Homo sapiens: one gene and its partners. The protein of the gene in region 5 interacts with the protein of the main gene of each other region in a biochemical or structural test. Each region holds a gene or a part of one and is shown on either strand. Other genes may lie near its edges.

Region 1 (4,671 bases), on a different chromosome or scaffold from region 5:
TGCCTTTAATAGCCAAATATTGAGATATTAAACACAAAAGCCTTGGTCATCATTTTTTTTCTAAGCACCATCATCTATTTTGTAACCTTGTTTATTCTACCCAAACTTCTTCTCTTTCACACAAACTTGTGAATAAGAGTGCAAATCAATACTTTAAATACACTCTCGGTTTGCATTTGGCTAGAAAAAACTATGAAGATAATAAAAATGGGACCTGCGTTTATAATATAATTATCATGAATAATGGCAAAAGGAAATTAAATGAAGTGAACCATCAGCCTTCATGAAATCACTGTCTGTCTGGTAGTCTTGCTGGGTGTCTTCCAGCCTCAGATTTAGCCTACCTTTTATGTGATGACACAATGACCATTTAGAAAATGGGCAGTGATGCCAATGATTATCAGACATCATTTACTGTGGACCAATATAATTGGGAACACCACTTCTTTTTCTCCTGATTTGGTTTTCCTGCCATGAGAGTACACAATGACATTTAGAGCAGCTTCATGCAACCATACTAAAGTGAAAAATTAGTCATTTTGAACATCTTGGCAGTGGAACTGTATAATTACTTCTGTCAAGTGTTTGTGTTTTGTCTGCATTGTACATATTTTTTCTTTCCTATGAGTGATTGGAGGAGTGGAGGGGGAAAATAAAGGACTTTTAAAGTCTATAAACATTATCATAAAAAAATTTCAGGGGGCAACTGCTAAAGATAAGTGGAGTCTTAGGAATGTTAGGGGTTCTTTTATAGGCAGGGGCTTAATTAGGCAGCTAAAGTTCTGTTCCATAACCTTGCGGTAGAAAATGACTTATGGCTAATTTTGAGGGGTGGGCTTGGCTTGGCAGTGGCTATTTCTGGTCAGGCTCTTCCCTTTTATAATTATGAAATTTCCTTCCCCTGATTTCCTAGAACATTTGCTTATTGTCAGGATAATTCATCTGACATTTACTAAATCTGGCCTTGTAGAGTTAATTACCTTTTCCTATTCCTAGATTACCTACATTGCAAGCCTAGAAGGTTATCTATCTCTTTTTCATTGCATCCACCACAATACTGGGCACACAGGTGGGCTCAAGACACAAGGTTTTGGAATTTTTAGGGCAGAAAACATAATTCAGAAATCACAGCGTCATGGGATCTGTAAAAATGACCAAAAAACTTGGTTAGCTATCTGAGTGGGCAGGCTTCTTTCCCAGAGCAGTAATTGTCACACTTTGGCGTGCATCAGAATCACCTGGAGGGCTTCAGTTTCTCATTCTACGGGTCTGGAGTGGGGACTGAGAATTTGCCTGGTACTGTGTATTACATGCATTATCTCAATTCACGCACAGCCTTATGAAATGCCTACCACTTTAATTATAAATGACTCGCTGGAGCGCAGAGGCCACGTGACTGGTGGGGGTGCTTGGCAGCACTGGCCACTTCCATCGTCTTGGGGGTGGGGGTGGCGGGGCGCGCGCGTGTGTGTGTGTGGTGATTAGCATGCCTTTTATTTCTTTCAGGGTCTGGAGATAGAAGAGAAATTCCCTGAGAAAAAGAAAAGTAGAAAGGTATTTACTCTGATCTTCTGGCCCCATCTGGTGGTTTTAAGTCTGACTAAAAAAAAAAAAAAAAAAAGCGCTGATTCGTGATCTCCCCCTGCTGGTGAGAATGGTGGGGTCAATCCGGCCGCCTCTCGTACCAGTTGTTCTGAGGTGCATTTCTGTGGAAGCATTTCCGTCATTCTGAGACAGTTGGGCTGAGGCGGTTGGTCGCCTCTCTCTCTCTCTCTCTCTGTTCCTCATCTACATTTTGATTGGTTTATTTTTGTATTGTTTTCTTTCAGTTTCCGATAGGTGGAGAACATTCTGCTAATAGCTTTTCTTCCAGTCCATTTGTGGCTTGTTAAAGGTACAACATGTATTGTCAGTCGTGACGAGAGCTTTTTGCCTTATATATTGATTATATATTATAAATATAGAAGTATATCCTGTGTCAGGCTGGAGATGTGGGAGGAAAACTGGCTGAGGGAACTAGCCTTTAATTAGTTTATTTCCTCCCTGTCAAACCAACAAACTTTTCTGGAACATCTGAAAAAATAACCTTTAAAAAGTACTTCAGGCTGACCGTGGTGGCTCACGCCTGTAATCCCAGCACTTTGGGAGGCCGGGGCGGGCAGATCACCTGAGCTCAGGAATTCGAGACCAGCTTGACCACCATGGCGAAACCCCGTCTCTACTAAAAAGACAAAAATTAGCCGGGCGTGGTAGCGCGCGCCTGTAGTCCCAGCTACTCGGGAGGCTGAGGCGGAAGAATCGCTTGAAACTGGGAGGCAGAGTTGCAGTGAGCCAAGATGGTGCCACTGCACTCCATCCTGGGTGACAGAGCAAGACTCTGTCTCAAAAGAAAAAAAAAACTTAAATATACAGTTACTTGGTGACAAAATGTTTATCCTGCCCTGCAGATAGTGTATCAGTGAATGAATGTATTAAACATTACAGCTGGGTGCAGTGGCTGCGGCAGGAGGATGGCTTGAACTGGGAGGCAAAGGTTGCAGTGAGCCAAGATGGCGCCACTGCACTCCAGCCTGGGCGACAGAGTAAGACTCTTGTCTCAAAAGAAAAAGAATTAAATAGCCAGGCGCAGTGGCTCACGCCTGTAATCCCAGCACTTTGGGAGGCTGAGGCAGGCGGATCACGAGGTCAAGAGATCGAGACCATCCTGGCCAACATGGTGAAACCCCGTCTCTATTAACAATACAAAAATTAGCTGGGCATGGTGGCATGCGTCTGTAGCTACTTGGGAGGCTAAGGCAGGAGAATCACTTGAGTCCAGGAGGCAGAGGTTGTAGTGAGACGAGATCGTGCCACTGCACTCCAGCCTGAACGACAGAGTGAGACTCTTGTCTCAAAAGAAAAAAAAATTAAATAGCTGGGCACGGTAGCTCACGCCTGTAGTGCCAGCACTTTGGGAGGCTGAGGCAGGCGGATCACGAGATCAAAAGATCGAGACCATCCTGGCCAACAAGGTGAAACCCCGTCTCTACTAAAAATGCAAAAACTAGCGGGACATGGTGGCATGCGTCTATAGCTACTTGGGAGGCTGAGGCAGGAAAATCACTTGAGCCCGGGAGACAGAGGTTGCAGTGAGCCGGGATGGCGCCACTGCACTCCAGCCTGGCGACAGAGCGAGATTCCATCTCAAAATAAATAAATAAATAAATAAATAAAATATACTATTACTTGGTAACAGCTGGGCGCTGCGGCTCACTCCTGTAATACCAGCACCTTCGGAGGCTGAGGCGGGAAGAAAGCTTGAGGGCAGGACTTTGAGACCAGCCTGGGCAACATAGCAAAACTTCCGTCTCTACCAAAAAATAAATGAAATAAAATAAAATTAGCAGTGTGTTGTGGTGCCCGCCTGTAGTCCCAGTTACTCGGGAGGCTGAGGTGGGAGGATCACTTGAGCCTGGGAGTGGGAGGTTGCAGTGAGCCGAGATCATGCCACTGCACTCCAGCCAGGACGACAGAGCAAGACTGTCTCAAAAGAAAAAATAATAAAAATGAAATATAGTATTACTTTATGACAGCTGGGCACGGTGGCTCACTCTTGTAATTCCAGCACTTTGAGAGGCTGAGGTGGGAGTATTGCTTGAAGGCAAGAGTCTGAGTTTGAGACCAGCCTGGGCAACAGAGCAAAACCTCCATTTCTACCAAAAGAAAAAAAAAATTAGCTGGGTGTGGTGGCGCGTGCCTGTAGTCCCAGTTACTCCGGAGGCTGAGGTGGGAGGATCGCTTGAGCATGGGAGGTTGATGCTGTAATGAGGAGTGATCTCGCCAACTGCACTCCAGCCTCCTGTGCCTCTTGCTCTCAAGTCAGGATGATGAATCGGGGTAATGACTTCATGTGGTCACTAGGAGGTCGCAGCTGTTGGAAAACGTATTCCCATGCAGTAGGAGAACACCCCGTAAAAAAGCCGTCTTGAGAAGGTGTTCCTCCAATTAAAAGGGAAATTGGTGATTTCTCTTGACAGAATCACTCCCCATCCTAAAAACTGCATTTTTGTGTATGTCGTATTTATTGATACATTTCCTTAATATTTCCATTATGAAGATATGTATAGGTTCAAGGAAGGCAGTAACTGTCTCTGTGTACAACCTAGCAGTGGCTCATGTGCTTAGACACTCAGTAACTCTTGGTGATGTTGAGATGATTATGACAATAGTGATGGTGTTGATTATAAGAGTGGACTCAATCATTTGTGTCTTCTGAAATTCTCAACAGTTTTACATTCACCTAGTGAATTTATAAATTCACATATCACATTCTGCCTTGTGGTGTATTTGTTTCATTATGAGCTTTATCTTTCCAAAAACAGGACTTCTTGAAGAGAATGACTGTGTTTTGCCCATTTTCACTTACCCTGCTAAGGGTAGCACAGGTTCATATATATTAGCAAATGCCTAATGATATTTACATAATTGAAAATAAGTGGTAATGGTTCTTCAAGAATTGCTAGCCCCAGGACCACATAGAAGTGCTTGGTCAAGGCCAAAAACATTGGGTCATCCTGATCCAAACTGCCTGGATTATTGTAATAACTGGCTAACTGATTCCACTGAATCTATCCTTGCCACTCTTCAATGTAACAGTTTTTAGGAACTGATATACTTTATTAGCTACTCTGT
Region 2 (3,923 bases), on a different chromosome or scaffold from region 5:
TGAGGTGGGAGGATCGCTTTGAGTACAGAAAGTTGAGGCTGCAATGAGCTGTGACTGTGCCACTGCACTGAAGCCTGGGTGACAGAGTGAGATCCTGTCTCAAAAAAGAAAATACAAATAGGGACAAGAAGGTTTAGGTTAAATGTATGACTCATACCTATAAATGGATCATAAAAGGAAGGCTGGCAGTACTTTGGGATTCCATTCCAACTTTCTAGACTCACTCACTTTTCCACAAAATTTCCCTTCATGGCCGGTTGCAGTAGCTCACACCTGTAATCCCAACACTTTGGGAGGTCGAGGCAGGCTGATAGCTTGAGCTCAGGAGTTTGAGACCAGCCTGGACAACATGGCGAAACCCCACCTCTACAAAAAATACACAAATTAGTTGTGCGTGGTGGCATGTGCCTGTAGTCCCATCTACTTGGGAGGCTGAGGTGGGAGGATGGCTTGAGCCCAGGAGGCAGAGGTTGCAGTGAGCCGAGATCTTGCCACTGCACTCTGGCCTGGGTGACAGAGAAGACCCTGATTTAAAAAAAAAAAATCCCTTTTCATGTTATTCTCAGAAAAAAAATACTACTGCCTTTACTAAAATTAAAACTAAGAGACCAAATAACAGAAAGGCACATTCCGGATCACTCCAGAACCCCAGAGGCACTGTCACCTCTTCTTCCTCTGATACACTGACCTTTAGAGTCATGCTTTGGTAGGTTTTCTGGTGCAAAGGAGCAAGAGGCCTTGAGACCACTTTTTCATCTCTACTGTACATAGAATGGCCCTTAATGAGTAACTACTATGTACCAGGCATTATATCGAACCACTTACAACTGTTATCTCATTTAAGTACCAGGACAACTCTATGAAGTCTACATCATCACCTCCATCTTATAGACCAGGAAACTGATTCAGCAATGTGATATCATCTGTCCAAGGTCACAAAGCTAGACAGTAGCAGGGAAGGACTAAAAATTCATATTCTTTATTTCATATTATGTTTCCCCTAGGAATCTCTGAATCTTTAAACTTGATGCAAATAAAATATGAAATGGATGATTCTACTATTCATAGTGTTATGACAGAGACTGCTAATTGCCTAATATGCCTTCCTACCCATTATCAGAACTCTTATGTGTCATGACAATGGCATAAACTAAAAGATATTTTCCAGCCTTCCCTGCACTTAGGTGTGGCCATGTGACAATGTCCTGGCTATTAACAGTAAGTAGAAGTTTCTGGTTAGAACTCCTGGAAAAGGTCTCAATAAGGAAGATGGACAGCTGGTCCACATCTTTTTGCCCTCCACATCCACCTGTCCTTCTTGATGTAAAGCTGAATCATGAATTCCACAGCCATCTTGGACCATGAGGAATAATGAACATGGAAGCCACTGGTAAGAATGGCAGAGGAAAAAAAGTGAAAAAGCCTGGATCCCTGATGACTCTGTCGAGCTACTAAATCAAATTTATTTCACACTAGACACATAAAATCCCATTTTGTTGAAAACACTGTTATTTCTAGCCGGTTACTAGGAGCTTAATGTAACTCTTGACTGAAAGAAGCCTTTTTCCCAAGTTGCTAGAGATACAGCAGCCATTATTTTAATCTATAACGCAAATTAAGACATTTCACAAAGTTCAAGGAGTTAAAAGGGCAAGATCACCTTGTTCTGGAGCACAGCAGTGAGGTGAGGATTGGAGAGTGCTGGTGTAGCTGCACTTTGAGGTAGGTTCATTAGCTGTCGCAAAAGGCTGGTGATACTCACTGATGGAAGATGATAGAGAAGGAGAGAGAAGGGACTCAGTAAGCATGGCAGCACCTACAAAAAACAAATAAAAGCATTATATCCTGGCACGTGTTACTTCAGTTACCCCCCACCAGGGGCATGGATGGAAGGATGTTCATTTGTATATTCAACCACTTAAGGCACAAGTCTGGCAGATATGACTAGAGTCTTAATAATGAATTCTAAGCTATCTACTGAGAACTTTTTCATCTCAATTTGCATTGGAAACACCATGACTTGTGTGAACCAAAGGTGTAAAAAAAAATCACTCCCAAATACATACCAAGAGTTATGCTAAAACATCAATATTTTAACTAATTCCATAAATATTTAAATGCTTACACTACACCATGGGCTAAAAACAAATGGCAAAAGGACACAGAACCTCAGGGATCTAAAGTATAGCGGAGAAGATATGGGTTAATTGGCCATTTCAATATACTGTGAGAAGCACTCCAAGATAGGTTAAAGGCCAAGCAGAAGATCACTTCAGGCCAGGAGTTCAAGACTAGTCTGGACAACGTAGTGAGACCTCATCTCTACAACAAATAAAAAAGTTTCACCTGTAGTCCCCAGCTACTCAATAGGCTGAGGTGGTAGGTTTGCTTGAGTCTAAGAGTTCAAGGTTACATTGAACTATGATTGCACAACCACATTCCGGCTTGGGTGACAGGGTGAGACCCACCCTGTCTCAAAAGAAGTGTTTTCAGATTTAATGTATTTTCTTTTATTTTTATAAAAGCTCAATGAGGAAGAAAAGAAATAATTAGCCAATTTTTATAGATTTTTAGAGAATCTATAAAGTGATCAGAAACTCAGTGTTTGGAGTTACATAGCCACAGCTAGAGCCAGAACCCAAGGCTGTTGAATTCCAGCCTTCTAGTCATTTATTTCTTTTTGTCATGTAGCCAACTGGAAAGTTAAAATAAAGAACTATTAATATAAATAACTAGGTTATAACACAACAAAGGAAATCAAGAGTGCTTCCAGACAATCAATGCACATGGTATAAAGTGATGGCTGGTTTTACTTTAAATGGCAACTGCAAATGGGGAATAAAATATTTTTTGTGGTCTACTATAAATTAAAAAAGCTTTTATTATGGTCATTTTAGAACATACATGAAAATACAAACAACAGCATAATGACATTCATGTACTCACCACCCAATTTCAACATCAACCAAATTATCAACATTTTGCCAATCTTATTAAATCTATGTTCCTTCTGTATCATATCATTTCATCCCAAAATACATCAGTTTGTATTTCTAACAAAATCTCTCACAATATCATACCTAACAAAATAAACAATAATTTTTCTTCATAGACCATTTCTCAGGAAAGAATTTTAAAATATCATCTAGTATCTGTTTCAAATTCAAATTCCCTCAAATGCCTTTAAAAATATCTTTTAGCAGCTGAACTTTGTATTAGAACCATTATTGTGCTAATTATGGTTCAAACAAGATCCACACATTGCATTTGCCTGGTAAGGTTTTTAAAATCTCTCTAACAGGTCTTCTGCCACTGGCCCTTTTCTCTTGTTATTTATCTGTTAAAGAAACTGGGTCATTTGTTCTATAGTTTGAATTTGGCAAACTGCATGTTGGCAGTGTCACTTAGCAGGTTCTGCTATCCTCTGTTTCCCTCCTAAACAGATAGTTAGAATAACAGGTTTATTTGATTCAGGTTCAGTAGGATGTGGGAGGGACATGTGAGAAAACGTCATGGATAGAACTGTGTATTTTCCATTGCATTATGCCAAGAAGAGCTAGGTATGGTGGCTCATGCCTGTAATCCCTGCATTTTAGGAAGCAGAGATGGGAAAACTGCTTGAGCCCAGGAGCTCGAGACAAGCCTGGACAACATAGGGAGACTTCGTTTCCTTTTTTTTTTTTTTTTTTTAAAAAAAAAAAAAAAGCACAGTGCTTGGTTGTCCCACTCTTAGAGGTGTTAAGAGTTCATTAATGGGTTCAGGTGTTGCCAGGCTGCTCCAACCACTGTAAAGTTCCCCATCCACTTTTTTTTTTTTTTTTAATCCATTCAACCCTGAGTGGATACAGCACATGTTTCAGAGAGCACAGGGTTGGGGGTAAGGTCACAGATCAACAGGATCCCAAGGCAGAAGAATTTTTCTT
Region 3 (3,568 bases), on a different chromosome or scaffold from region 5:
TGCTCTTAATCTCCTTGGAAAGGGGCCCAGAATTCAAAGCAGGAGGGCATTGAACATTGCCAGCTTTGTTTGAGAATCGTTTCAATGTGACGTTTTGTGTCTTGAGAGCCTAAGAAATGCTCCATTGGCAGGGATTGGGGTCCCGTCTAGCCCAGTATTCTGTCTCTGACAATGGGCACCCATTTGTGGAAGCATTCTTCATGCTGGCGGCCCTGTGGGCTTTGTGATATGCCCCAGATCTCTGGCTTCCTATAATAGTCCACGGGGGATGTGTTATCCAGGAATTTTTAAAACCCTCCTTGAACCTATTCATATGTGCCAGCTCTTAGGGTGACAGATTCCAGAAGTCAGCAAATATTTGAACGCTTAGTTTATGGCTAGCACTGTGCTAAGCATTGTCGAAGATAGAAATGATGCTTCATAACTGGTCTTGGCTCTTGCTTGAGCTTATTCTTTTTTAAGGAGACAAGACTTGGTTGCAGTTGTGGAAAAGGTGGGCAGTGACATCAGATGTCACCTTTAGAACACCAGGCAGACCATGAGTGGATCAGACTCACAGTGACAGAGCTCACAGAGACTAATGTCTAAAAACAGAAACATATTATTAATAATTTATGTTGAAAAATAAAACTACCAGACCCAACACTGATTTATCCCCATATGCAAGTCTAATAGCCAAATCGTAATCAGCAGGCTGATGAGTGAACAAGAGGAGCTTTAGTCAGTGTGATTGAGTCATTGATTATGGCAGCCTAACACAGCCCTTTCCACAAAGAAAGACCGTATGTTTGTCTTTCTGATGTCTCCTGTTCTAAACCTAGTTGATCTTTTTCATATGTTATTCCATTCAGCCCTAATAGTCCAGCCTTGTTTTTTTGTTTGTTTGTTCATTTTTGAGACAGGATCTCACTCTGTCGCCCAGGCTTGAGTACAGTGGCACAATCACGGCTCACTGCAGCCTCGACCTCCCAGGCTCAGGTTATCCTCCCACCTCAGCCTCCTGAGGAACTGAGACGATAGGCACGTGCCACTACACCTGGCTAATTTTTTGTAGAGATGGGGTTTCATCATGTTGTCCAGACTGGTCTTGAACTCCTGAGCTCAAGCAGTTCTCTCGCCTCGGCCTCCCAAAGTGCTGGGATTACAAGCGTGAACCACCATGCCTGACCCCAGCCATGTTTTTTTGGTTTTGTTTTTTTTTTTTCGTTTTTTGTTTTGTTTTTTTTGAGATAGGGTCTTGCTCTGTCACCTACTCCTCTAGGCTGGAGTGCAGTGGCACAAACACAGCTCACTGCAGCCTGGACCTCCTGAGCTCAAGTGATCCTCCCACCTTAGCCTCCCAAGTAGTTGGGACTATAGGCACACTACAGGTGCACGCCACCACACCTGGCTAATTTTTTGTAGAAACAATGTCTTACTATGTTGCCCAAGCTGATCTTGAACTCCTGAGCTCAAGCTATCCTCCTGCCTTGGCCTCCCAAAGTGCTGGGATTACAGGCATGAGCCACTGTGCCTGGCCCCAGCCCTGTTTTGAAAGTGCCTTTGCATATCTCTGTTCTGTCCATATTAGTTGCTTAAAAGTTTAATGCTTGAAGATAATTGTTCTTTCCTAAATATTTTGAGAGGAGGAATCTGTATTGAATATTGATTCCTCCCCATCATCTACCTCCTACATATGCAGCAAACAATACAAAACAATGTAGGATGAGGTGCTAAATTATGTCGTCTAGACAACATGAGCCAGAAAAACAAATCAGAGAAAAGAGAGGTCAGTGTGGGCTGAAAATGCTAAAGAAGGCATCTGTGTGTGGCACAGATGGGAATTGAATTCCTGCTTTAAAAAGTAGAAAATTAGGCAAAAGCAGATAGGGAAGCATGAAGCAGGATAACTCCAGGGGAGGAATGCTTTCACTTTTTGTTGCTGCCCTCCTCAGTAACACTCAGCTTTTCTTTGGCTTTTCTGGCCAAAGAAATATACAAGGCAGGACGGGCGCAGTGGCCCATGCCTGTAATTCCAGCACTTTGGGAGGCCAAGGCAGGTGGATCACAAGGTCAGGAGTTCGAGACCAGCCTGGCCAACATGGTGAAACCCCGTCTCTACTAAAGATACAAAAAAAAAAATCGGCTGGGCATGGTGCTGCACGCTTATAATCCCAGCTACTCAGGAGGCTGAGGCAAGAGAATCGCTTGAACCTGGAAGGCAGAGGTTGCGGTGAGCCAAGATCGCGCCATTGCACTCCAGCCTGGGCGACAGGGCGAGACTCCGTCTCAGAAAAAAGAAAAAAGAAAGAGAAAGAAAGAAATCTACGAGGCAGTATGAGGCAGTGGAAAGGCTGCTGAATCCTTAGTCTCCTACTTAGGGTTTGGCATTTGCAGTTCCGGGGTGCCAATGTCCACATTTGTAAAATGAAAACAGTATCACCTGCCTTGTTGTTTTTATTGTGTGAGGCTTAAGTGAGAAGGGGATGTGTGTGATATTCCTGGTGCATAGTAGGCATTCAGTAGATATTAGCTGAATCTAAATTGAGTTGATGTATTTGGGGAGAAGTTTCCCCAGATTTAGGGATTGCCAAGTTACCTGGGATTCCCTTGGTGGTTGGTGTGACCCTGTCTAGAGGTAATAGCTTGGCTTACTTACATATAAGCTTCAGTGTGCTGTGTCACAAATTTCTTTGTACGCCTCTTGGGCTACCGTGGTTTTCTTTAAATAGTCCTATTCAGCCTTGTCAGATATTTCAGTACTAATCGAATTTTCTTTCTTGTAGGTACGGAATGGCCACATCAAAAGAATCACTGATAATGACATCCAGTCCCTGGTGCTAGAGATTGAAGGGACAAATGTAAGGTAGGTTGCCACCTCTGTTCTCCCAGAGACATCATATACTAGGGAGGCAGTACGTCATAGAGGTTAATAGCACAGACTGCGGAGTCAGAGTGCCGGATGTGAGTCTATCTCTGCCACTTAGAGCTTACCATGGGCAAGTTACTGAATCCCCCAGACCTTAGCATACTCATCTGTACAATGGGCAGAATAATAGTACATTTTCCTTATAGGGTTATTGCGAGGAGTAAATAAATGAATATATATAAAACACGTAAAGCCTTGCTTAGCACATAGTAAGCACGATGTCAGTATTAGCTATATTATTAACCAAAGTGTGTGTTGGGGTGGGGAGTGGGCAGTGTTGTACAGCTCATCCAGTGGGTGGACAGTGTGGTTTTCAGTGCCATAGAGGTCTCAGTTTTGGTTTTCTGTCATTCGATGGCTCCCCTGGACCAGAATTGAGGTCTTCTCTCACTGGAGGAGCTTCTAAGATCCACTGTCTGGCTTTGTTTTTCAGATATTTTATTGCTGCTGTCTAGTCCTGTGTTAAGCTTTTGTTTCTGGGTCCAGCGTTTGTTAAAGCAGCCGCTGACTTAGGGCTGAGGGATTCACTGGGTGGCGTGTCTGAATCTTTTAGATCTGCTTTCCAGTGTATCCTCTTGGACCGTGTGTTATTGTTGTGCATACCACAAAGGAAGAGAGTCCAGGAGTGTGTTTATTAGTATTTCCTCTCTCTACAGCACC
Region 4 (4,050 bases), on a different chromosome or scaffold from region 5:
GAAAAAATAAAGAGGATAAGGATTATATCTCAGGTGGGGGGGGGGGAATTGTATCTCCCACTAACTATATGCATGTATATGCGCACGTGTGTGTGTGTGTGTGTGTGTGTGTGTCTCAAACCTTATGGACCAGGCTTTTTTTTTTTTCTTAAGACAGGGTATGGCTCTGTCGCCCAGCCTGGAATGCTATGGCACAAACACAGTTCACTGCAGACTCAACCCCCTGGGCTCAAACAATCCTCCCAGCTTGGCCTCTCAGAGTGCTGGGATTACAGGAGTGAGTCACAGTGCCCAGAGCCACTTTACCCATTTTTTTTGAGACAGACTCTCTCTTTGTTGCCCAGGCTGGAGTATAGTGGTGTGATCACTGCTCACTGCAGCTTCAACCTCCTGAACTCAAGCGATCCTCCCACCTCAGCTTTCTGAGTAGCTGGGACTACAGGCATGTGCCACCATGCTCAGCTAATTTTTGTATTTTTTGTAGAGAAAGAGTTTTGCCATGTTGTCCACACTGGAACTCCTGGGCTCAAGCTCTCAAGCTATCCACCCACCTCAGCCTCCCAAAGTGGTTGGATGACAGGCATGAGCCACTGTGCCCAGCCACTTTACCTACCTACCACATCCTGCCACAGTCCTAAGTTTAACTAATTAAAGAGATATGCTGTGAAATGTAAGAAAATAAGAGCAAATAAGTTAGTAGAAAGCAACTAGGGTAAAAGGAAGGCAGGAATACTACTATGGGAGATAAGCTAATCACAAGTTTGTTTTTGATGAGCAATGGAAAACTGTTTGATCAGGGTTGAAAGGACAAAATTGGCAAGAACTGAATCCCAGATAATAAAAATAGAAGTAAAGCTTGTTAAAGAAAAAAAAATCATTTTGTCACTCCTAATGAAATTATTCACACAAGGATTGGTGTTAAAAGCATTAAGTGAATAGCTGACAGAGAAAGGGCATTTGTACTGTACCAAAATGAACACATAGATCACTGTCTAGTAGCAAAAAAAAAAAACCCGAAAAAACAAAAACAAACATTAACTTCCTAACAGAGAGAGATCAGGCCACTCAGATTCGGTGGTCAATCTTAGAATTAGGAATAGTTTGACAACTAGTTTATGTTATCTCCTCGTGTGATGCTAGCTGGAGGACTGTCAGGGTACATAAATAACAGTCTTCCTCAAATACAAGGCAAATATCAACGTCAAAACAACAGATTATTCAGTAGTGTTTCTTTTTAATCCAACAGTAAAAAAGTTTTTCCAATCTACTGGAAAAGAAAAAATTGTTAAATTCAAGGCACTTAAAAGAGAGCTAACTTTAAATCTTGTTCTGGAACTTGAGAGAGTTCCAGTGGTATAAATGTCAGCACTCCCCGTGCCTTCCCAGGGACTACCATGGCTTGGCTCTGGGGACAGGGGCACCCAAGCAATTAGCTTGAAGGCCAAGGCCTTCAAGATAACACAAAGGCAAATCCCTCAGGAAGAACACCCTACTACTGCACTAATTATATTAGACAGCAAAGCGGGGTAAAAAAAAAAAAACAACTCACAATGGAGATATTTCCTTCTTAATTTCTGCCAAAGCCTCACGACATAGGCTTGAAGGTGATTCCTGGTCCTAGAATGAGAATTGAAAACCAATTTCGGTACAACCAATCTGGATGCACAACCAACTCAACACCGTGAGGTGGCAAAGGGGTAAGAGGCCAAGGAGTTCCTGGGCTCTGCTACCCTCCCCCACCCTAATGTTACCGAGAAACTAAGTTGAAAAAAAAGAACTATAGGAACCGCAACGACGAGACAAAGCTAAAAGTGCTTCGTCCAACTGCAGTACTGGGGATGCAGTGGGCTCGGGGATCCGAGGCCTGCTCCCAGGACGGGAGAGGGAAGGGTAAACGTCGTCTCGACGCCAGCAAGGGATTTGTATTCCCTCCTAAATTTGCCCACCCAGCGTCATCTCTGTCACTCCAAGCACCATTTCAGAGGTAACGGGCGGCGCGCATCACCTCTGGGCCCACAGTTGCCTCAAGAAGTTGCCCTGGGGCCCCAGCAGTCGACGACAGGGCCCCAGATCCGCCATTAAACTCGCCCAGATCAGCAGCAAAGAGTAAAAGCCGCGCAGCGCCTGGGAAAAGATGAGCGAAGGAGGGGACCCAGCGGGGCAGAGGCAGAAGCCCTCGCCCGAAAAACCTGGGGACCTCGGCTCCGGCGGCAGGGTGGCAGCGCGGTCCTGACAGCGAAGACCCGGCCGGGGCGCCCCTCCCTCGCCCAACCCGCCCCCCGCCACTATGCGGCAGGAGAGAAAGAAAAATGCCCCGCGACCTCCCCGGGCGGCCGGCAACCCGCCCCGCCACCCCGCCTCCCCGCCGGCCCCGCGACCTCCGCCGCTGGCGACCGCCTCACCCAACCCTCCCGGCCTCGCTCGCACTCTCCCAGCCCCTCAGGCCGGACGCAAAAGCGCCGGTGACAGGAGGGCAGCCCCGAGCTGCCCTCGAGGCCCCGAAGCGGCAACGGCGACGGCGGCCGCGCCGCGGGGTATTAATCCCGGGTCGGTGGGAGCCTCCGGAGGCTGCTCTCACCCATCTCCGCCTCCCCACTCACCTCGGCCTCCGCCTCCTCCTCCGGAGGCTGCGCTGCTCCCAGCCACCCCCACTCTCAGCGGCCCTGGACTGGAAAGACAGCGGGGATAAGCGTCACCCGGTTCTGGCTGCGGCTGCGCGGAACGAACAAGCCCACCCCGCTTCGGCGACAAGCACAACTCCGCGAGGTCCAGTCCCGGCTTTTCGCGCTGGTGAGGAGGCGGAGAAGCAGGGGACGGCGCAGCAGAGCCCGAGGAGGCCCCACCCTCCGTGCGCTCGTTGGCTGGCGAGGGAGACGAGCCTGGGCGCCTTGGGCACGCCCATTGGCTCCGACGGCCGTCCTTCAGGGCGCCCCCTCGGTGGGGTGGCCGAAGAGCTGTCCGTCAGGTGCGGGCCACACCCGCGGCCCTGCAGTTCCACTCCCGCCTGCCAGCCCTCAACTCCCGGTCGGGTTGTCTCCCCGCCGGTCTCCCGCCCCCAGCTACCGGGTCCGCCAGGGTCAGGAGCCCGAGATTCGCCGCCCGTCGTAGCGGCCCGCTTCGGCCCCTCGGGGCCCGGGGCTCTCCGGGACCTACACAGCCCGGGAGACTCCGGCGGGGCTGCCTGCCCTCGCCCGAGCCCGGGGGCCCAAGCTGCGGCAGCGGCTCCCAACGCCTCTGCTCGAGGAGAGCGGCGGCCTGGATGCCCCAGCGCCCTCCCTGTCCAGTTCCTTGAAGGCCCCCAAGAGGGGCGAGGCCGGGGAGGTGCTGGAGCGGGGCCAAGTGAGCTTTCGGGGCCGCGGTTGAACTGGAGTCTTGAGTGCGCTGCGGTCAGTGGAGGCCCTTCCACCCTCGCCGCGCCCCGTGGGGAATAGTCCCCCACCTCCCGCCATGGCTGCAGCAGGAGGAGACGACGTCCTCCATTTTGTCGGGACAACTGTGGGAACTTGGGACCCCTCAAAACCAAACCCCGTGGGGCCAGGACTTGTCCCGGAAGCCCCGACTGGGCTCTGCCATTCGGACAAGGGAACAGCCCCAGCTGCCGGCGTCTGCGTCCGCGGGGCAGTACTGGTCGGGCGCGACGGTGGAGACACCCAGACGCAGCTCCCCGCCTCCATCAACCAAGATGGAGGGAGCTGCAGGCTCCCTTGGAGCTGGGCTCTCGCGGGTTGGAGGGGCTGAGGCCTGCCCTGGGGCGTCCCTGGGCGCCGCCGTCCTGTGCTAGCAGCCCGGGGCGCTGGCCCTGCCTAGGCCTTTTTACTGCCTGCCACCGTCTCCTGGTCCGGAATGGTTGATGGAGACTCCATGGAGGCTCCCTCCACAGCCCGCTCTATCGCGGGGCGCACCCGCTGCGGCCCCTGCGGGGAGCAGAATCAGGGACAGATGGCGCCCGGTGAGGGCGGGCCCCACAGGCCACCTCCACGAGGGGTCTTCTCTTTTGTTCCTCGTCTACACCTACGTCTTCGGCGGATGTCATGGTGCTGAACCATTTCC
Region 5 (3,923 bases):
ACCTGGGCAACATAGTGAGACCTTGTCTCTACTTAAAAAAAAGTCAGCCAGGTGTGGTGGCGCACACATGTAGCCCCAGCTACTCAGGAGGCTGAGGTGGGAGTATTGCAGAGTCCAGGAATTCATGGTTGCAATAAGCTATGATTGCACCACTGCACTCTAGTATGGGTGACAGAGCAAGACCCTGTCTCAAAAACAAAAAAAAGAAGTACTTGTCTTTTGTTTATTGATTATATGTCCTCATTATAAAAAAGGGTTTGTTGTGGCTTCTGTTGTCTTATTTCCAGAATCCAAAGACTGTCCTTGCCACCTGCACAGTCCCTGTGATATTTGATACCTAGTCACCATTAACCAGTCCAATACAAAGAGTAACAGCTATTTAAATCAAGATAGGCAGGTAGCCATTTAATACAGTACACTTATAGAAAGATTGTACCCCTTAATTAAAAAATGTCTGAAGTATTAACATGTCCTGAATTTATCCAAATTTCTACCTATGTCAAGTCCGTTTCTCAAATGCATATGTATAAATGTAGCATTTTTACTCCCCATGTTCACTATTTTATGCCTTTCTTTTTTTTTTTTTTTGTACTTTATGTTGTATCTTTTAGCCTAACCTTTAAATATTGGATTCCTAAGGTCCCTTTTATCATTCTGTATTCTCCCTTAAGAAGGTTTTTATCCTCTCTCATTCACTGGGTTATCTATTTGGTGTCACCCCCAGGTAATATCTAGCTCACACTTTCTTCCTGAGTTCAATACCTCAAAGTATGTTTGTATACATGACTTACCTCATGTGGGTGCTTCATAGGTACTGGAAACTCACATTTGAAATAGAAGTTATCTTCCTCTCCTCTAAAATGTCTTTTAACACTGCTTCTGACTTCCCTGACCTCAGTATATAACATTGCCATTCATCTGCCTGGTCCCTCAAGTGAAAAAACACAAAAACCATCGTATGCTCTTCCTTTCCCTTTGTTCCCCTCCCCTCACATATTATAAGCCCCTAGTTCCTGCTATTATTAATGTCATTAAGTTCTCCTAAATTCAGCCATGACCCTTCCCTTCTGTCTCTTAGCTCAAGGCTTCTTCCGGAACCTCATAGCTGATTGTCTTCTTTTGGGCATTGCTTTTCTCAAGTCATTTTGTACACTGCAACTAGAGTGAACTTTTTATAAAAGGCAGCCTGATCATCTGTCCTACTTGAAAGCCCCAGTAGCTTCCCATTTGCTCTTGGGATGAAGTCCTAGTGAAGGGTTATATGCTCATCTTTAGTTCCTCTAAACAGCTTCCCTGACCCTCTGCATCTTCTCTGATAGATTTGGTGTGCCTTTTTATAAGCTCCTTTGTGCTTCATTACGTACTGGCATAGTTGGTTAAAAGCTTTGGTTCTGAAGCCAGACAGCTAGGTTTAAATCCTGACTGCTATTTACTAATTTTATTAATTTGGGCTTCTTATTTAAATCCCTGTCTGACTCATTGGCTCCTTCTGAGAATAATAACAATACCTACATTATAGGGTTGTTGCAGTGATTAACTGAGTTATCACATGTAAATCATATAGAACATAGGTGCTGAGATAAGCTGATAAGATTATTAGAAATCCTGCTTGTTGGCCATGGCTCACACCTGTAATCCTAGCACTTGGTGGGGCCAAGGCAGGCAGATTGCCTGAACTCAGGAGTTCAAGACCAGTCTGGGCAACATGGCGAACCCGTTTCTACTAAAAATACAAGAAAAAAATTAGCTAGGCATGATGGCACATGCCTGTAGTTCCAGCTACTCGGAGGCTGAGGCATGATAATCGCTTGAACCTTGGTGGTGGGAGGTTGCAGTGAGCCAAGATTGTGCTACTGCACTCCACCCTGGGGGACAGAGGGAGACATTTTCTCTCAAAAAAAAAAAAAAAAAAAAAAAAAAAAGGAAAAGAAATCCTGACTGTTGCATGGGACAAAGACTACACCCTTCTCGTTTCTGCTTCTGACTTGGAAAAATTATGGGATTTGAGTTAAGAGAACTTCAGTTCTGGTATCAGTTCAACCATGCACTATTTTTTGTTAACTTAGATAAGCATTACACGTCAGGGTCCTCACCTTCCTCATTCATCAAAAGTGATCTTTGGGCTCTCTTCCAATTCCTGTTTCTCTGATTCTAATAATAGTTTATCCTTAAGCACTTAATGGGTGAAGTAGGCTTACCATAAGGTAGAAAAGATTATCATGATAGTTCAGCTGGGATCTAAAAGTCACTAAAAGTGCAGTTAGCATTAGCGTGGCCTAAAAGTTGTTGAGCTTATGAACTTACCATGAGCCTTCATAACAACCCTCTGCTACTGCCTGGTTGTATTTTAAATAACTATTTTACCCTCATAGGTGAGGACTTTTGTAGAAGAGGCTTACATAGAGATTAGAAAGTGCAGATTGGGGCCCAGTGACTTGAACTTTCTATACTGACCTAAATACTAGTGACATCATTCTCTAAGCCCTTTAAAGCCCTTTCATGATTGCCAGTTCTGTTGGGAAACAACTAGACAAAAAGCAGATTGTAAGTCAAGAAGTAAAGAGTTGTATTTTATACCAGGATGGGAGATGTTGAGTCAGTTGCTGAGTGATTGCCATATTAACCTTATGGAAAGGTATACTTCTACTCACCTGAAATTTTGGGAGGAAGATGTGTTACATATAATTTATTATAATCAGTATACTCTGATAATAACTTTTTATTGCTTGCTTAGTTTTTTCTTCAATTATCCTTTACTATGATTGCCTTGAATTCTTTATAGATTTGTTCCGCCTTGTCCCTTATATAAACTTACTTTATTTTTATTCTTCTCAGTTTCTTTACACTTAACCCTTAATAATAATATGTAATTAGCTAATGTTTCTTGGCCGTACCATGTATTATTCTAAACACCTCATATGTTTTACCCCCATTTAATCCTCTCAATAACCCTAACTTTTGGGGCTCAGAGAGGGTATTAGCACAGAGTCACTCAGCTAATAAGCTAATCTGATTGCAAACAGAATATTCTTAACAACTGTGTGCTATATTATATCTGATCTCATACTTTTATAGTTTTGTACCAAAGTAGTCACTTTACTGCTTATCCCTTCCTGCTTATTTTTAGGTTAAATTGATGGGAGGAAATGGGGACCTTCTTTCTAATAAATACGTAAGCTTTTAAGTGAAAGGGGCACCTTTGTGTGTAAATCACAATGGAACCAAAATTATTAAATGTCTCTTTAATGGTATTCATTGCTTTTTAAAAAAACATAAGTCATGTAAAGCTGTTAAAATACTGATCATTCTGTGTTTTTAATTTAAGAAATAGGCTGGTGATTTGAACAAATCAAGTATAAATTCTTTTTGAGACAACCAGGGAAAATTGAAGACAGGTTAGGTATTAGATGAGATGAAGGAATTATTACTGATGTAGTTAGGTGTGATAATGGTATGTGGTTATTTTTATTTAAATACTGATGTGTTTACTGGGAGAAATAATGTATTTGTTTTAATAATACTCTGGTTGGGAAGGGTGGGATGCAAGGGTACTAGGGAATAGATGAAACAAGAATGGCAACATATTGGTAATTTTTGAAACTGGATGGTAGGGGCATAAGGGCACATTATAGTAGTCTACTTGTGTATATGTTTGAACAGTTTTATAATAACGAGTTTTTTTCAACAGTTGGAAAAATAACTGTTAGGAACTTTTTAATTTTTCTAAAAAGTGAGAAAGAAATAGGGGGTTGCTAGGAAAAGATAGATTTAAAAGGTTTTATCCAACCTACAAAAAAAGTGGTACAGTCATCTGTTTTCCTGGCTGCTTACTACTAGTATAGAGGAATAAGTCCATATTAAAAACAAATAATAGCTTTATTGTTTTATTTTTATTCAGTATATTGGCATTTATAAAATTTAAT
Region 6 (4,483 bases), about 63 Mb from region 5:
GATTTTCAAACTCTCTTTTTCCCAGTTGCATAGCGTAGGAGACACTTAGTATTTGTTGGCTGAATGAGTGAACCATTAGGGCTTGAACTTGATATTGACCATTAGCACTTAGTATTCAATTTTTCGCCTTTCTCTGTTTCCCCCATATCTCATGGGCTGAAAGGCTGTAAAAGGCCTTCCCTAAACTCCTTTGCCACTAAGATTCTGAAGGCTATTTAGATCCCTCCAGTGAGATGCATTAGCCTGAGTTTTGGAAGGCAGTGGGGAGATAGAAGTCATCCTTCCTGAGGTGGTGGCTGCTGATAGTAGCCCCAGCAGATAGAAATTTTGCAGAGACCATTCCACGTTCCATGGCCCAGTGCCCTAGACCCAACCACTGCCACTGTGGCCATAGGTAGAATGGTATCCCCCAGCTTCAGTCTGTCTGTGTCTTGCACTGATCCTGACTGATACAGTGATATTGTGCTATCAACATAATCTTCACCCTTTGATGAAGATCTGTTGCACCAGATGTTCTGGCAAAATCCAGGTTAGGAGGATGTTGAGTTATTTTAGGATGGCTTTTTTTATTTTTTATTTTTCCAGAGACAGGGTCTTGCTCTGTTGCCCAGGCTGGAGTACAGTGGTGGGATCCTAGCTCAGTGCAGCCTCCAACTCCTGGGCTCAATGGTCCTCTTGCTTCAACCTCCCAAATAGCTAGGACTGTGAGTGCACACCACCATGCCTGGCTAATTTTTATTTTTTTTTTGTACATAGGAGTCTCCCTATGTTGCCCAGGCTGGTCTCAATCTTCTAGCCTCAAAAGATCCCCCTGTCTTGGCCTCCCAAAGTGATGGGATTACAGGTGTGAGCCACCATGCCTAGCCAGGATGGCTTTCTGAATCCTGATCTAGGTTGATCTTTCCTGTATTATCTGGCCGAAACTCTATAGATTCCTTTTCCCATATTCTCAATTTAGTGCTTTTAAAGGCCTAGAATAAGGGCATAGGTTAGAAAAAAATTAAATTACATTTTATATTTTATAGTAGTTGGTCTCCTGTATTTTCTGGCAGCAACTTTTATTACAGGACAAAGGGCCAAGATATCTTTAGCTATCCATGCAAAGAATAGTCCAGCCATTTGTACTAGTTTTATGGGAATTTATAGCCATAACACTGAATGTCTATAATGAATGAATTGAATGAATTTATAGACATGAGCCAACATGAGGGCAGATTCAAATGTTGCTAGAGGCTCCGGGGTGAGTGGAATGACTTCTCAATTTATTCTCTAGAGGCCAGTGATTCTATGATGTATTTTTTTCTTGTGTCATTCAGAGTATTATTCTTTTAAAAATTTAGGGTGAACTATTTTTGCCATCTATGCTTGTTTCTTCTTCCTTCTAATAAAATAGCCTTCATTAATGTATATGGTTTTAGTTATGATTAAATATTACTTTAGATGGCAAGTATTTAATTTTCTTAGTGTGCTTTTTGAATTGCTTAAACCTCATTAATGCCATGAAAAACCTAAATGAACCATATCTTTGTACTTGCGTTTGGCAGATAGAGAAAAGATTATTTATGTATTGAATTGATAATCAAGTGGAATTGTCAATGAAATTAAGATGATGAGATGTGATCCTCACCAGTGGCTACTTTTAGAAATTTACATTCAGAAAAATTTGATCCTGAATGGGCTCCTGATGAGTAAGATTGGGAAATCAGGACCAAAATGAAACAGATGGACAAAGAAGAGACCAAGGCCTCCATGTGCCTGCAGAATCTTCTGTCAGGATCTTGAGAGATAAGAACAAAAGAGGATTTTGAACAGTCTCAGAAAATACTGAGGTTTAGATTTTTTGATGTGTGTGTGTTTGTGTGTGTATAACAAGAGTTTTTGACAGCTTGATTTTGCAAAGAGCAAATGTATATACAATTTGTGTGTGGACCCAGTAATGTATTTCTAGTAGATATGTAGATATGCAAAAATATTTATAGAGAACTATTTCCACCTCATCATCACCCAATTTTTATGACGTGGTGGCTCGGCTTAAGCTAGTCCTACTTTTACAGACAACTTTGTTAAACTGATTGTTGAGATAAGGCAGTTGGTTCAAAACTTACCACAAAGGAAGGTGGAAATCAGAAGGATGGTTCTCAGACCCTGAGATGGGAGGGCTGCTGAGGTGATATCAGCATTGCAGAACCAAAGCTCCCCTATTTCTTTCCCAAATCAGACTCAGGATCACCTTTCTAGCTCACACACTCAAAGCAGCTTTTTACAAGATCTACAATAAGGGCCTAGATTGGGAATGAATAAATAAACAAGTCTACCCTTTTGCTCTTAACTGTTTTCACTCTCTCCTGGGAAAGTGAAAAAAAAAAAAAAAGGAAGTACATCATAGTATCATAGGAAGATTGAATTCTAAAAATTTGTATGTCATTTTAGTATGTTTCGGTATAGCTTCAGTTTCCACTAGTAACTTTCCTTAGCCATATCACTCTGTCCAGAGTTTTCCAGATCAACTTCTTTATTTCATGACTAATGCATACTTCCACTTACCTTCCTAACTCTCCTCTTCCCCTTCCCCTGCAAGCCCTTCCACCTACCTGCTTTAGGATAGGTAGAAATAAGCAGGTCATCAGGCTTGGCTTGGAAGTTCCAGATCTTATCCCAGATGTCACAGGTGTCTGTCGGTTGAAGAATTCCCTTCACGTAGTTGACACTTAAGCGCTTTGTTCCATCAAATGTAAAATCCTCCATGTCGTGTAAGGCCATTAGTGTAAGAAATCAGAGGGCTCTTCCAGACACAAAGTTATCTTCAGTCAGCATATGGCTGCGTTGTGGATAGAGGCAGCACTCTATCCACCACACTACCACACTATCCAGCCCTCTAGCACAGGCCTGTCTGGGCCAGCAAACAGGGAGAAAGTGAGTTGCAGGCCTCCCGACTCAGGTTCCAGGGAACTGGAACTCTTGTTTATGACTTTGTCCACTGGCAGTTTCCTGAGGAACTGCAGCCCCCTCCTCACCAGGCTGTGGCGTCACAGCAGAGGCGGCCACAAACCCTGCTGGCCAGCAAACAGGGAGAAAGTGAGCTGCAGGTCTCCCGACTCAGGTTCCAGGGAACTGGAGCTCTTGTTTATGAATTTGTCCACTGGCAGTTTCCTGAGGAACTGCAGCCCCCTCCTCACCAGGCTGTGACGTCACAGCAGAGGCGGTCACAAACCCTGCTGGCTGGGTCCCGTTCCAGCCCTTCCGTTCTCTGTGAGTTAACAGGACATAGTATCACATTGTTTATAGCTCTCATGTCTGTGTCCATTAAACCCTTCATAGATAATTTCAGTAATTATTCCTTCTGGGAATTTTAAACAATTAAAAAGTTGCAGGACTTGCCTGTGAAATTACAGATTCTACACAGAATGACTTCCCTGAGAGACTGCAGGGACTTTCCCGTGGGCTATTAACAGTGGGGGCCTGGATGGATCTGAATCTCCCAGTACAAACATCTGCCAGGGTCAGCTTTGTTATTTTTTAAGAGTAAAATAAATAATGCTAAACTGGAGAATTGTAGGGGTTTCATCACAGCTATGAAAACATGTATGCCTCATTTAAAGCAAAAGGGATGCAGAAAACTCCAGAGTTAACAGAAGACAGTGGCTGCCTTAGGAATCCATTCTGCCCCTGATAATCAGAAATTTCACAACTTGCTTCAGTCCCTGCCCCCGGCCTGGCCTGCACCCCAGGGCCATGCCACACTTGCTCCCCATGGCAGCACTCCTTCTGGAGATCTTGTCGGCTCTTGTGTGTCTGGCTGTCTGATTCTCTTTCTTCGTGTCCCAGCTTTGATGCCCCCTTTCTGGAGAAGCCTTCTTTGACTTTCTATGTCATCTCAAGTAGGTCCCTCCTATTTCCTTGCTCATGGCACTTTGTGTTCCTTTAGAGCAACCATTGACAGTTAGTTTTTGCGTGTTTACTTGTTGGCATTTTCTGTCTCCTTCACTACACTCTAAGGCACATGAAATGGGGCCTGTTGTTTTCTCACTGTTTGATAGCTGTATGCCTAGTGTCTGGCATTCTTCTATTTCTCGAAAGAATGAATGAGTAAAACTAAGCAAAAATTGAGGAAGCGAGTTCCTTGGGCCATCATTATGTGGGGACTAGGTGAGTATGGTGGCTGTGGCTTGACATCCTTCAGAGAGAAGTCAGGCTGCCTGTATTTGAACCCTGTGCCAAGTCCCAGTAGCTGTGGGCAATGGCAGGTTACAGAATCTTTCTCTGTTTCATATCACGCTTTTCCTCAGGTCTGAATTGGGGATCTTAACATTATCTACCTCATGGTTGTGGGGAGATAAAACAGCTTATTTAATGCTTGGCAACAGGGAAATGTTGAATAAATCATAGCTGTTAATAATAATGGGTGACTTTGTTCACCATTTCTCTGTGGCCCATGTTCTGGATGCAAACTCAGAAAAGATCAATTCTTTGGCTTTCCCTATTC
Region 7 (3,923 bases), on a different chromosome or scaffold from region 5:
TGGTTCTTGTCTTAAGCCATACCACCATATTTTAGAAGTGGGTACAAAATGAATTGTAAATAAGTAACACTGAACATTGTTGGGGCAGGGATGATAACCCTGGTACAGAACACGGGCTCAAAAAAGTGAGTGAGACTGAAGCTGCTGGAATGGTTTTAGTGTCCACATTCATCCAAGGCCCTCACAGCCTTTTATAGCTCGCTTCCTCACTATGGGATTAAGTGGAACATCTTTTCTGATCACCATAAAAATGCCCCTCATAGCCTTTTATAGCTCCCCGAAGGATGGGTTTTCCCATCGGAATATACATTTTCACTGGGCTTTATTAGCTGGGTGGAACTATTATGCCCATTTTATATGGGGGGGAACTAAGGCCCATAGAGAGGAGGGGTGGTGCCGCTAGTCCTACAGCACCAAGAATGTCTCCTCCTCTACCTTAACTTAACACCTCCCCACACAGTGACCTCACCTCCGCGATGGAGTCAGGGGCACCAGAGCCAAGAACAGGTACCATTCCACCCCAACCACCCCAATCCCACTCTTCAGGAAGGGGAAGCCCCTCAGGGGCTGACACTCACTGTGGCATCTTCAGAACAGGAGGCGATCTCAAAATCATCAAAAGGGTTCCACTTGACATCCAAAACGTTGCCTCTGTGCCCGCAGACTTTTGGGTAGTGGGGGTCCAACTTCCCTGTCTGCAAGACAGTGCCCAGGAGGGTTGGGGAGGAGGTGGATTCCACATTAGCATCTGGACAGTCACATAGTCAGTTAGCAACCAGTCAACAGGAAAACATAAGGGACAGAGCTGGGTGTGAATCTAGGCCTTACTTCTTATTCCCTGTGGGATCCTGGGGGAGTTACTTCACTTCTCTGAGCTCTGGTGTCCTCCTCAGTAAAAGGGAGCAATCACAGGTATTTCACAGGTTGGTGTGAGGATCATGGGAGAGGAGGTATGGCACAGTGCCTAGCACATGGCAGATGTTCAATAAAAGGGCATTTCCCCTCACACACTGCTGGTAGGCATGTAAAATGGTGCAGCTCTTTTGGAAAATAGTCTGGCAGTTCCTCAAAAGGTTAACCGGTTCCCACATGACCCAGCAATTCCACTCCTAGGTCTATCTCCATGGAAAATGAAAAGATAAGTCCGCAAGAAACTGTTTCACCTAATCCCAGCACTTTGGGAGGCCAAGGTGGGTGGATCACCTGAGGTCAGGAGTTCGAGACCAGCCTGGCCAACATGGTGAAACCCTGTCTCTACTAAAAATACAAAAATTAGCCGGGCGTGGTAGCATGCACCTGTAATCCCAGCTACTCAGGAGGCTGAGGTAGAACACTTGAACCTGGGAGGTGGAGGTTGCAGTGAGCTCTGATTGCGCCATTGCACTCCAGCCTGGGTGACAAGAGTGAAACTATGTCTCAAAAAAAAAAAAAAAGAAACTGGTTCACCAATGTTCACAACAATATTCTTCATAATATCAGAAAGTGGAAACAACCCAAATGCCCATCAAGTGAAGAATGGACATACAAAATGCAGTATATTCATGCAGCAGAATACTACTGTCCCTAAAAAGAGGAATGAAGTACTGGTCCCTGCTACAGCATGGATTAACCTAGAAAACACTAGAAGAAGAGGCCAGGCACAAAAGGCCACACGTTGTGTGATTCCACTTAGATGATGTTCCAGATGTGGTTTCATTGCCTGAGCACATTAATGCATCCCCCTGGTACCTGGTATCTGGAACCCTAAGTAATGCATATGAAAAATGCAGAACGGGCTGGGCGCGGTGGCTCACGACTGTAATCCCAGCACTTTGGGGGGCCGAGGCGGGTGGATCACGAGGTCAGGAGATCGAGACCATCCTGGCCAACATGGTGAAACCCTGTCTCTACTAAAATACAAAAAATTAGCCCGGCGTGGTGGTGCACGCCTGTAGTCCCAGCTACTCGGGAGGCTGAGGCAGTAGAATCGCTTGAACCCAGGAGGCAGAGGTTGCAGTGAGCCAAGATCATGCCACTGCACTACAGCCTGGCGACAGAGCAAGATTCTGTCTCAAAAAAAAAAAAAAAAAGAAAGAAAAATGCAGAACGATACATTCATGGAGACAGAAGGCAAGATTCTGGTTGCCTCAGGCTTGGGAGAAGGGGCAATAGGGGGTGACTGCTAATGAGTGAGGGGTGTCTTTTTGGAGTGACAAAATGATTTTGAAATTAGGTGGTGGTGACAGTTTATTCACAGTATATTCACAACCTTGTGAATATACTAAGATCCACTGAACTATACACCTTAAAACGGTGAATTTTCCAACATGGCAACAGGACAAAACCCCGTCTCTACAAAAAATCAAAAAATTAGGCCTGGCATGGTGGCTCACGGCTGTAATCCCAGCACTTTGGGAGGCCAAGATGGGTGGATCACCTGATGTCAGGAGTTTGAGACCAGCCTGGTCAATATGGTGAAACCCCACCTCTACTAAAAATACAAAATTAGCCGGGCGTGGTGGCACATGCCTGTAATCCAAGCTACTTGGGAGACTGAGGCAGGAGAATCACTCGAACCCAGGAGGTGGAGGTTGCGGTGAGCTGAGATTGTGCCACTGCGTTCCAGCCTGGGCAATAGAGTGAGACTCCGTCTCAAAAATAAATAAATAAATAAATAGCCAGGCATGGTGTCGCACACCTGTAGTTCCAGCTACTTGGGAGGCTGAGGTGGGAGGATTGCTTGAGCCTGGGAGGTCGAGGCTGCAGTCAGCTATGATTGTGCCACTGCACTCCAGCCTGGGCAACAGAATGGGACCCTGTCTCAAACAAAAAACAAAACACGGTGAATTTTCTGGTATGTGAATTCTACCTCAATTACATAGAAAGGGCATTTCCCTCATTTTCCCCTTTCCTAATGAGAATTCCTGTATAGGTGCTGGGAGGGACATACAGGTCCCCCAGCCCATGCCACACAGCCCTGAAGCTATTTCCAACTCCACCAAGAGACTTGGATTTCTTGGGGTCATAGAGAAACCACACCAGTTCAGTCACAGAACCTTGGACTGGCAGTGACCAATCTGCTCATTTTGCACATCACATTGCATGGCCCTGGCAGAACAGGGACCAGGACCCAGGCCCTCGACCTCCCACATCCACCATCTAGTTCCAGGTTCTTGAGCCACCCACCAGAATGCTCCCCCAGCCATTTTTATATCTAAGTGAAAGAGACAGCTGAGAAGAAAACTGGCCAACATCCATCCATCCCACAAATATTCCCGAGGTGCCCAGGGGACAGGTGCTGTTGGAGGGGCTGATTGCAAGGTGAACACTCAACATAGTCCTTGACTTTGCAGAATCAATAGTCTTGGGATTTTTTCTAGAGGGACTTTCAAGAACAGGGTGGACTCAGGGAACACCCAACCTTCTCTTCTTCCATCACCTCCCCATCTGTGTAGAGACCACTGTACTTGTTTTTTTTTTTTTTAAGAGACAGGGTCTCACTCTGTTGTCCAGGCTGGAGTGCAGTGGTGCAATCATGATTCACTGTAGCCTCGAACTCGGGGTAAGACAATCTTCCCACCTCACCCTCCCAAGTTCCAGGCTAAGAACTACAGGCATGTGTCACCAAGCTCAGCTAATTTTTAAAATTATTTGTAGAGATGGGGTCTTGCTATGTTGCCCAGGCTGGTCTTGAACTCCTGGGCTCAAACAATCTTCCCAACTTGCCCTCCTAAAGTTAGGGATTACAGGCATGGGCCACCGTGCCTGGCCTATGCATGCATTTTAGTAGCTCTGCAAACAGAGGAGGTGGTCCTGTGCCTCCCTCTGGAAATACTCTGGCTAATCCAGGTCTCTCCCCTCAGGAAAAAGTGATCAGACACCTCCGCCTAGACTGGATCCCCTACTGGAGGGGACAACGCTATAAAGGACATTATTTAACAAAT

Evidence for each region.
Region 1: the proteins of TLK1 (region 5) and CCNB3 form a complex in vitro, tested with the Homo sapiens proteins (one large-scale study listed by BioGRID).
Region 2: the proteins of TLK1 (region 5) and PATL1 form a complex in vitro, tested with the Homo sapiens proteins (one large-scale study listed by BioGRID).
Region 3: the proteins of TLK1 (region 5) and CFAP20 form a complex in vitro, tested with the Homo sapiens proteins (one large-scale study listed by BioGRID).
Region 4: the proteins of TLK1 (region 5) and ZMYM5 form a complex in vitro, tested with the Homo sapiens proteins (one large-scale study listed by BioGRID).
Region 6: the proteins of TLK1 (region 5) and SULT1C4 form a complex in vitro, tested with the Homo sapiens proteins (one large-scale study listed by BioGRID).
Region 7: the proteins of TLK1 (region 5) and CORO2A form a complex in vitro, tested with the Homo sapiens proteins (one large-scale study listed by BioGRID).

The regions. Positions count from the first base shown.
Region 1 is NC_000023.11:50,203,057-50,207,727, forward strand, and holds the start of CCNB3 (G2/mitotic-specific cyclin-B3), read left to right. Parts: upstream 1-1,708; 5' UTR 1,709-1,894; intron 1,895-4,671. UniProt on the Homo sapiens protein: Cyclins are positive regulatory subunits of the cyclin-dependent kinases (CDKs), and thereby play an essential role in the control of the cell cycle, notably via their destruction during cell division.
Region 2 is NC_000011.10:59,641,220-59,645,142, forward strand, and holds part of PATL1 (protein PAT1 homolog 1), read right to left. Parts: intron 1,817-3,923; coding exon 1,661-1,816; intron 1-1,660. UniProt on the Homo sapiens protein: RNA-binding protein involved in deadenylation-dependent decapping of mRNAs, leading to the degradation of mRNAs. Acts as a scaffold protein that connects deadenylation and decapping machinery.
Region 3 is NC_000016.10:58,116,149-58,119,716, reverse strand, and holds part of CFAP20 (cilia- and flagella-associated protein 20), read left to right. Parts: intron 1-2,765; coding exon 2,766-2,845; intron 2,846-3,564; coding exon 3,565-3,568. UniProt on the Homo sapiens protein: Cilium- and flagellum-specific protein that plays a role in axonemal structure organization and motility. Microtubule inner protein (MIP) part of the dynein-decorated doublet microtubules (DMTs) in cilia axoneme, which is required for motile cilia beating.
Region 4 is NC_000013.11:19,860,850-19,864,899, forward strand, and holds the start of ZMYM5 (zinc finger MYM-type protein 5), read right to left. Parts: upstream 2,801-4,050; 5' UTR 2,601-2,800; intron 2,521-2,600; exon of another isoform or gene 1,978-2,520; coding exon of another isoform or gene 1,975-1,977; intron 1,618-1,974; coding exon of another isoform or gene 1,550-1,617; intron 1-1,549. UniProt on the Homo sapiens protein: Functions as a transcriptional regulator.
Region 5 is NC_000002.12:171,007,291-171,011,213, reverse strand, and holds part of TLK1 (serine/threonine-protein kinase tousled-like 1), read left to right. Parts: intron 1-3,923. UniProt on the Homo sapiens protein: Rapidly and transiently inhibited by phosphorylation following the generation of DNA double-stranded breaks during S-phase. This is cell cycle checkpoint and ATM-pathway dependent and appears to regulate processes involved in chromatin assembly.
Region 6 is NC_000002.12:108,376,615-108,381,097, reverse strand, and holds the start of SULT1C4 (sulfotransferase 1C4), read right to left. Parts: upstream 3,145-4,483; 5' UTR 2,761-3,144; coding exon 2,592-2,760; intron 1-2,591. UniProt on the Homo sapiens protein: Sulfotransferase that utilizes 3'-phospho-5'-adenylyl sulfate (PAPS) as sulfonate donor to catalyze the sulfate conjugation of phenolic compounds.
Region 7 is NC_000009.12:98,136,994-98,140,916, forward strand, and holds part of CORO2A (coronin-2A), read right to left. Parts: intron 696-3,923; coding exon 579-695; intron 1-578.